Regions from separate parts of the Homo sapiens genome. Here region 1 is linked to region 2. A link means that fine-mapping ties the variant in region 2 to the expression of a gene that starts in the linked region. Tissue or cell type: whole blood. Region 2 holds a variant in brackets; the other region holds the start of a gene. All regions are shown on one strand. Distances are from middle to middle.

Evidence for each region. PIP is the estimated chance that this variant, and not a neighbour inherited with it, causes the effect.
Region 1: ALOX15B starts here. The variant in region 2 is fine-mapped to the expression of ALOX15B in whole blood (INTERVAL, PIP above 0.99). The same link has a PIP of 0.9 or more in blood mononuclear cells and monocytes.

Annotation. Positions count from the first base shown.
Region 1 is chr17:8,037,658-8,040,157 of GRCh38, forward strand. It overlaps ALOX15B (arachidonate 15-lipoxygenase type B), which reads left to right and starts at 1,402. Exons shown (of 14, transcript NM_001141.3): 1 at 1,402-1,645; 2 at 1,729-1,948; 3 at 2,245-2,326. The coding sequence starts at 1,499.
Region 2 is chr17:8,015,364-8,018,175 of GRCh38, forward strand. GUCY2D (guanylate cyclase 2D, retinal) reads left to right here. Exons shown (of 20, transcript NM_000180.4): 15 at 1-139; 16 at 380-478; 17 at 564-658; 18 at 842-927; 19 at 1,080-1,191. The coding sequence ends at 1,167. Among named protein-coding and RNA genes, the nearest start is that of GUCY2D, 14 kb to the left of the region's middle. RefSeq lists a silencer at 1,372-1,552. The variant A/G (reference allele first, on the strand shown) is at 1,535.

The sequences.
Region 1 (2,500 bases), 22 kb after region 2:
AGTCCTGAGCTCTATGCCCAGACGTGGGTTCTCCACTTGGATGTCTAATGGCCATCTCAAACTTAGCATCTCCAGACCGAAAACCCCAAATCTGTTATGTTATTCCCCCAAAGCCCAAATCCATAACTTCCCCTTGGCATCTCTCCCCCAAATCCCTCCCTCACTGCACTCTTGCCTTTCCCTCCTCCAACAAGCCAAGCTTTTCCTAACCACAGGGCCTCTTCAGGAACAGTTTCCTCTGCACAAAACTCTGTTCCCCAGACAGATCCTTTCACCTCCTCTGAGGCTCTGAACGCCTCCCTTCCCACCTCTGCTTCTCACTCCTTCACATTAGTCTGTTTCATTTCCTTCATTGCACTTATTATCATCTGAAATTATGTGTTGGTTTACTTATTTTCTCTCACACTTGATTTTTTTTTTTTAGACCGAGATTTGCTCTGTCGCCCATGCTGGAGTGCAATGGCACAACTTCACCTCACTGAAACCTCCGCCTTCCGGGTTCAAGCTATTCTCCTGCCTCAGCCTCCTGAGTAGCTGGGACTACAGGCGCCCGCCACCACGCTTGGCTAATTTTTTTGTATTTTTAGTAGAGATGGGGTTTCACCATGTTGGCCAGCAACTGTGCCTGGCCTCACACTTGATTTTTAATCTCCATGAGAGCAAGCACTAGGTCTTGCCTGGGCCTTTATCAATAGCAGTGAGCATAGCACCTGGCACAGAGGTAGTTCTGAACATTAATTATTGAATGAAATAAAATAATGAATGTAGGCTGGGCGCGGTGGCTCACGCCTGTAATCCCAGCACTTTGGGAGGCCGAGGCAGGCGGATCATGAGGTCAAGAGATCAAGATCATCCTGGCCTACATGGTGGAACCCCGTCTCTACTAAAATACAAAAATTAGCTGGGCATGGTGGCACTCGCCTGTTGTCTCAGCTACTGGGGAGGCTGAGGTAGGAGAATCACTTGAACCCAGGAGGAGGAGGTTCCAGTGAGCCGAGATCATGCTGCTGCACTCCAGCCTGGCGACAGAGCAAGCCTCTGTCTCAAAAATAAATAAATAAATAAATTTTAAAAATAATGAACGCAGGCCCAAGAAGAGTTGTGGGAAATGGGGTGATATTTTTGCATAGACTTCTAAGGCTAAGAAGGAAAACAAACAGACGTGGTGGGCACAAATCTACCCCCACCCCAACTGGGTCCCAACTCTAGGCTCTCTGGCCTGGCACCACCACTGAAAGGCCCCGTTCCCCAAACCTCAGGGTATTCTTAGTCCCTCCTGTTCCCAGCGCTGCCAATCCCCCGCCCACCCCCACTTTAGTTGCGTGTTCCAGCCTCTCCGCCCCGCCCCTCCCCGCCCTGAAACGGACGTGCTTTTTAGAGGAGTCCACTGGGCTTGGAGTCAGTGGCAATAACCAGGGGCAATAACCAGGCGTGTCCCAGGGGGGAGCCCCGCTCTGCAGCCCTGTGCGCCGTAGAGAGCTGGACTTAGGCTGGCAGCATGGCCGAGTTCAGGGTCAGGGTGTCCACCGGAGAAGCCTTCGGGGCTGGCACATGGGACAAAGTGTCTGTCAGCATCGTGGGGACCCGGGGAGAGAGCCCCCCACTGCCCCTGGACAATCTCGGCAAGGAGTTCACTGCGGGCGCTGTGAGTGCGTGGGAGTGGATGGGGTGGAGGTGAAGGGGGCGAGCAGGAGGGTCCGGCCTGACGCATACTTAACCTCCCCTCAGGAGGAGGACTTCCAGGTGACGCTCCCGGAGGACGTAGGCCGAGTGCTGCTGCTGCGCGTGCACAAGGCGCCCCCAGTGCTGCCCCTGCTGGGGCCCCTGGCCCCGGATGCCTGGTTCTGCCGCTGGTTCCAGCTGACACCGCCGCGGGGCGGCCACCTCCTCTTCCCCTGCTACCAGTGGCTGGAGGGGGCGGGGACCCTGGTGCTGCAGGAGGGTACAGGTGAGGGGCGGGCCGGGCTGGGGCTGCAGGGGGAGCACAGGAAGGGGTAGGGGACTGGGGGTTGGGGAGAAGGGCAGGTGAAATGGAGAGGTGAGCTGGTGTGGCCACAGAGTAGCGGGCAGAGGAGAGGGAATGGCGGAGCCTTGGGGAGCGGGAGGTAGCAGCCTGGTGTAGGAGAAACTGTACTTATGGGAGGAGGGGACCTGGTAGAGGGTGGCAATCGTGGAGACTGTGTGGCTGGTGGTAGTGATGGTGAGTTTCTCTCCCCACCCCAACCTACTCCCCTTCTCCCACAGCCAAGGTGTCCTGGGCAGACCACCACCCTGTGCTCCAGCAACAGCGCCAGGAGGAGCTTCAGGCCCGGCAGGAGATGTACCAGTGAGGAGGGGGTTACTGATGGGGGAGGGTGTGCCCAAACGATGAGGGGCAGCTTGAGTGTCCTGGTCATGACAGAGATTAAAAGCCCCTGCCTCCACCTCTCCTATCAAAGCTGCTCCTGGGATCAGCAGCGTCTACAGGAACGTATTAGAAATGCAAATTCTCAGGCCACCT
Region 2 (2,812 bases):
GGGCTGCCCCAGCGGAATGGGCAGCGACACGCGGCAGAGATCGCCAACATGTCACTGGACATCCTCAGTGCCGTGGGCACTTTCCGCATGCGCCATATGCCTGAGGTTCCCGTGCGCATCCGCATAGGCCTGCACTCGGGTAACTCCCGGGTCTTCCCAGGCTCCAGCCCATCTCCCTCTTTAGGGCCTGGCCCCAGATTTCCTGTAGAGGAGGCAACTCATGGAGCGGGGAGTGGGGCTTACCTTGAAGAGGATGCACTTAACAAGGCTTATTTGGGGGGCTGGTGGAGATAATGGGTGCGAAGATCCCCCGAGGCCCTACCTAGGTGCAGCCCAGGGCCGGCCCTGCTAGCCCCGCCGACCCCCAGCATCTCCACAGGTCCATGCGTGGCAGGCGTGGTGGGCCTCACCATGCCGCGGTACTGCCTGTTTGGGGACACGGTCAACACCGCCTCGCGCATGGAGTCCACCGGGCTGCGTGAGTGTGACGGGGACAAGACGGGGAGGTGGGAGGGGGACACGGGAGGTGAGTCCCGAGCTCACGGCGTCCCCCACCGCCACAGCTTACCGCATCCACGTGAACTTGAGCACTGTGGGGATTCTCCGTGCTCTGGACTCGGGCTACCAGGTGGAGCTGCGAGGCCGCACGGAGCTGAAGGTGAGGCAGGGCCCCAACCCCTCCCGGAGGCCCCGCCCTGTCCTGAGGCACCGCCCATCCCGGGCCGCGGCTGCAAACCTCAGCTCACCCTTCTGACCTGGTCTCCCAGTTCCACGCAGACTCGAGATCCCCCACCCCTCACCCCAGTCCGCCTAAGTCCTTCCCTCTCCCATGTCTCCCCAGGGCAAGGGCGCCGAGGACACTTTCTGGCTAGTGGGCAGACGCGGCTTCAACAAGCCCATCCCCAAACCGCCTGACCTGCAACCGGGGTGAGGGGCCGGCCTCCGCGGCAGGGCGAGGGACGAGGGACCCCTGCCTCCTGCTCTGTGTCTGACCCCCCGCGCGCGAGGCAGCGATGACGTGGGCCCTGCCCTCCCACGCCCCATTCCCCTTCCCTGAGGCCACCGCCCCCTCCTTGCAGGTCCAGCAACCACGGCATCAGCCTGCAGGAGATCCCACCCGAGCGGCGACGGAAGCTGGAGAAGGCGCGGCCGGGCCAGTTCTCTTGAGAAGTGAGGCCCGGCCCCGGACAGGTACTGCCCCCTCAGCCCCAACCCCAGCTGCCGCGTCCCCTCTGCTGCCTGCAGAACGTCCCACCCAAGCCAGGTGTCCCGATCCCTTTCTGACTTAGAGAGCCCAGGCTGGTTCCTAAACCCCGGGGCTTCCCCTGGGAGGGAAGCAGCCATTGCAGGAATTTTGGTTCAGTAGATCTGGAGTGGTTTGGAAATCCAGGCTTAGGAAACTCCGTAATCGGGGCCTTCTGTGGCCCCTCCCCTGGCCCTATCTCATCCCCAGTGCATAAACCTGGCTTCCGCAGAAGCCTCACAGGCTGTGCACTGCACAAGAGACAACTCTAGGGGGCAGCAGTCACCAGAG[A/G]ACAATGTGAAAGCAGAAGCCGTGCCCACTCCCCTCCTGCAAGAAACTGACCCGTGACCCGCTCCTTCCTAGGTGAACCCCCATGACCCCTTTCCTCGACTCCCCTCTGAGATACCCCTCTTTTCTTCAGGATTGTTCTGGAAGGTCCTTTTCCTGAAAGTTGCTGCTATAGGTGACTGGAAGTCTGTCTAATGCTGGTGGACTCTGCCCAGCTCTGCCTCAAAGGATTTTGGGCCTTTTACAAGAGCTGGTTGCAAAACCAGCCATGTGACCTTGGGAAAGTGTCACGCATGCTCTGCTGTGATCCCTTCAGTGGCAAAATGGGGGGTGGCCTAAGTGGTTCCCAAGGCCCCTGTGCACCTGACAGCTGGGTGGCTTGTGGCCCTCACCCCCAGGAGCCCTGAGTCCAGCAGGGGATGTGAGGGTCAGGGATTCTCCGCTTCCCAGTGTCTCTCAGGGACCCAGGAAGGAGGATCTGGGATTGATGCCCGACCCCAGAGGAAGTGGAGTTCTGTTCCACCAGAGCAGGGTTTGTCACATGGCCTGAGGGGGCAAGGGCTCCTGTTTAGCCTCAAGCTTCATTCCTATCTCCATCTCCCACCAGTCAGAAACTGGCTGCTTCTCCTGTGGGTATAATCAGGGAACTTGCCCAAGTGCAGAGAAAAGCTTGCTTCAATGCTTTGAGGAAAGGAAATTGTGCCACACCTTGACTGACCAGAACATCCAAAGAGCGGCATTCTCTGTTTAACTAGGAGCTGCTGAGCAAGCAGTTGGACAGAAAATCCTCTCTGCTTAGAATTTTTTCTTTTTTTTTGAGTCTCACTTTGTCACCCAGGCTGGAGTGCAGTGCAGTGACACAATCTCGACTCATTGCAACCTCCTCCTCTCAGGTTCAAGTGATTCTCCTACCTCAGCCTGCCGAGTAGCTGGGATTACAGGCACCCGCCACCACGCCCGGGTAATTTTTTTGTGTGATTTTAGTAGAGATGGGGTTTCAGCATGTTGCCCAGGGTGGTCTTGAACTGACATCAAGTGATCTGCCCACCTTGGCCTCCCAAAGTGCTGGGATTACAGGTGTGAGACACCGCGCCTGACCTTTGCAGCAATTATCAATGCCCTGTCCTGGCAAGTCCCCAGTTGAAGTTGCCTTTGTGAAACTCTGACCTTCCAGAGCCTGGGCCTTGGCACATTTGACTCTTGGTGTCTGTCACCATTGCTACAGACCCTGGAAGAAGTTTGCAGCAGGCTAGGAAACCACCTAGGCTGCCACCAGAGGTA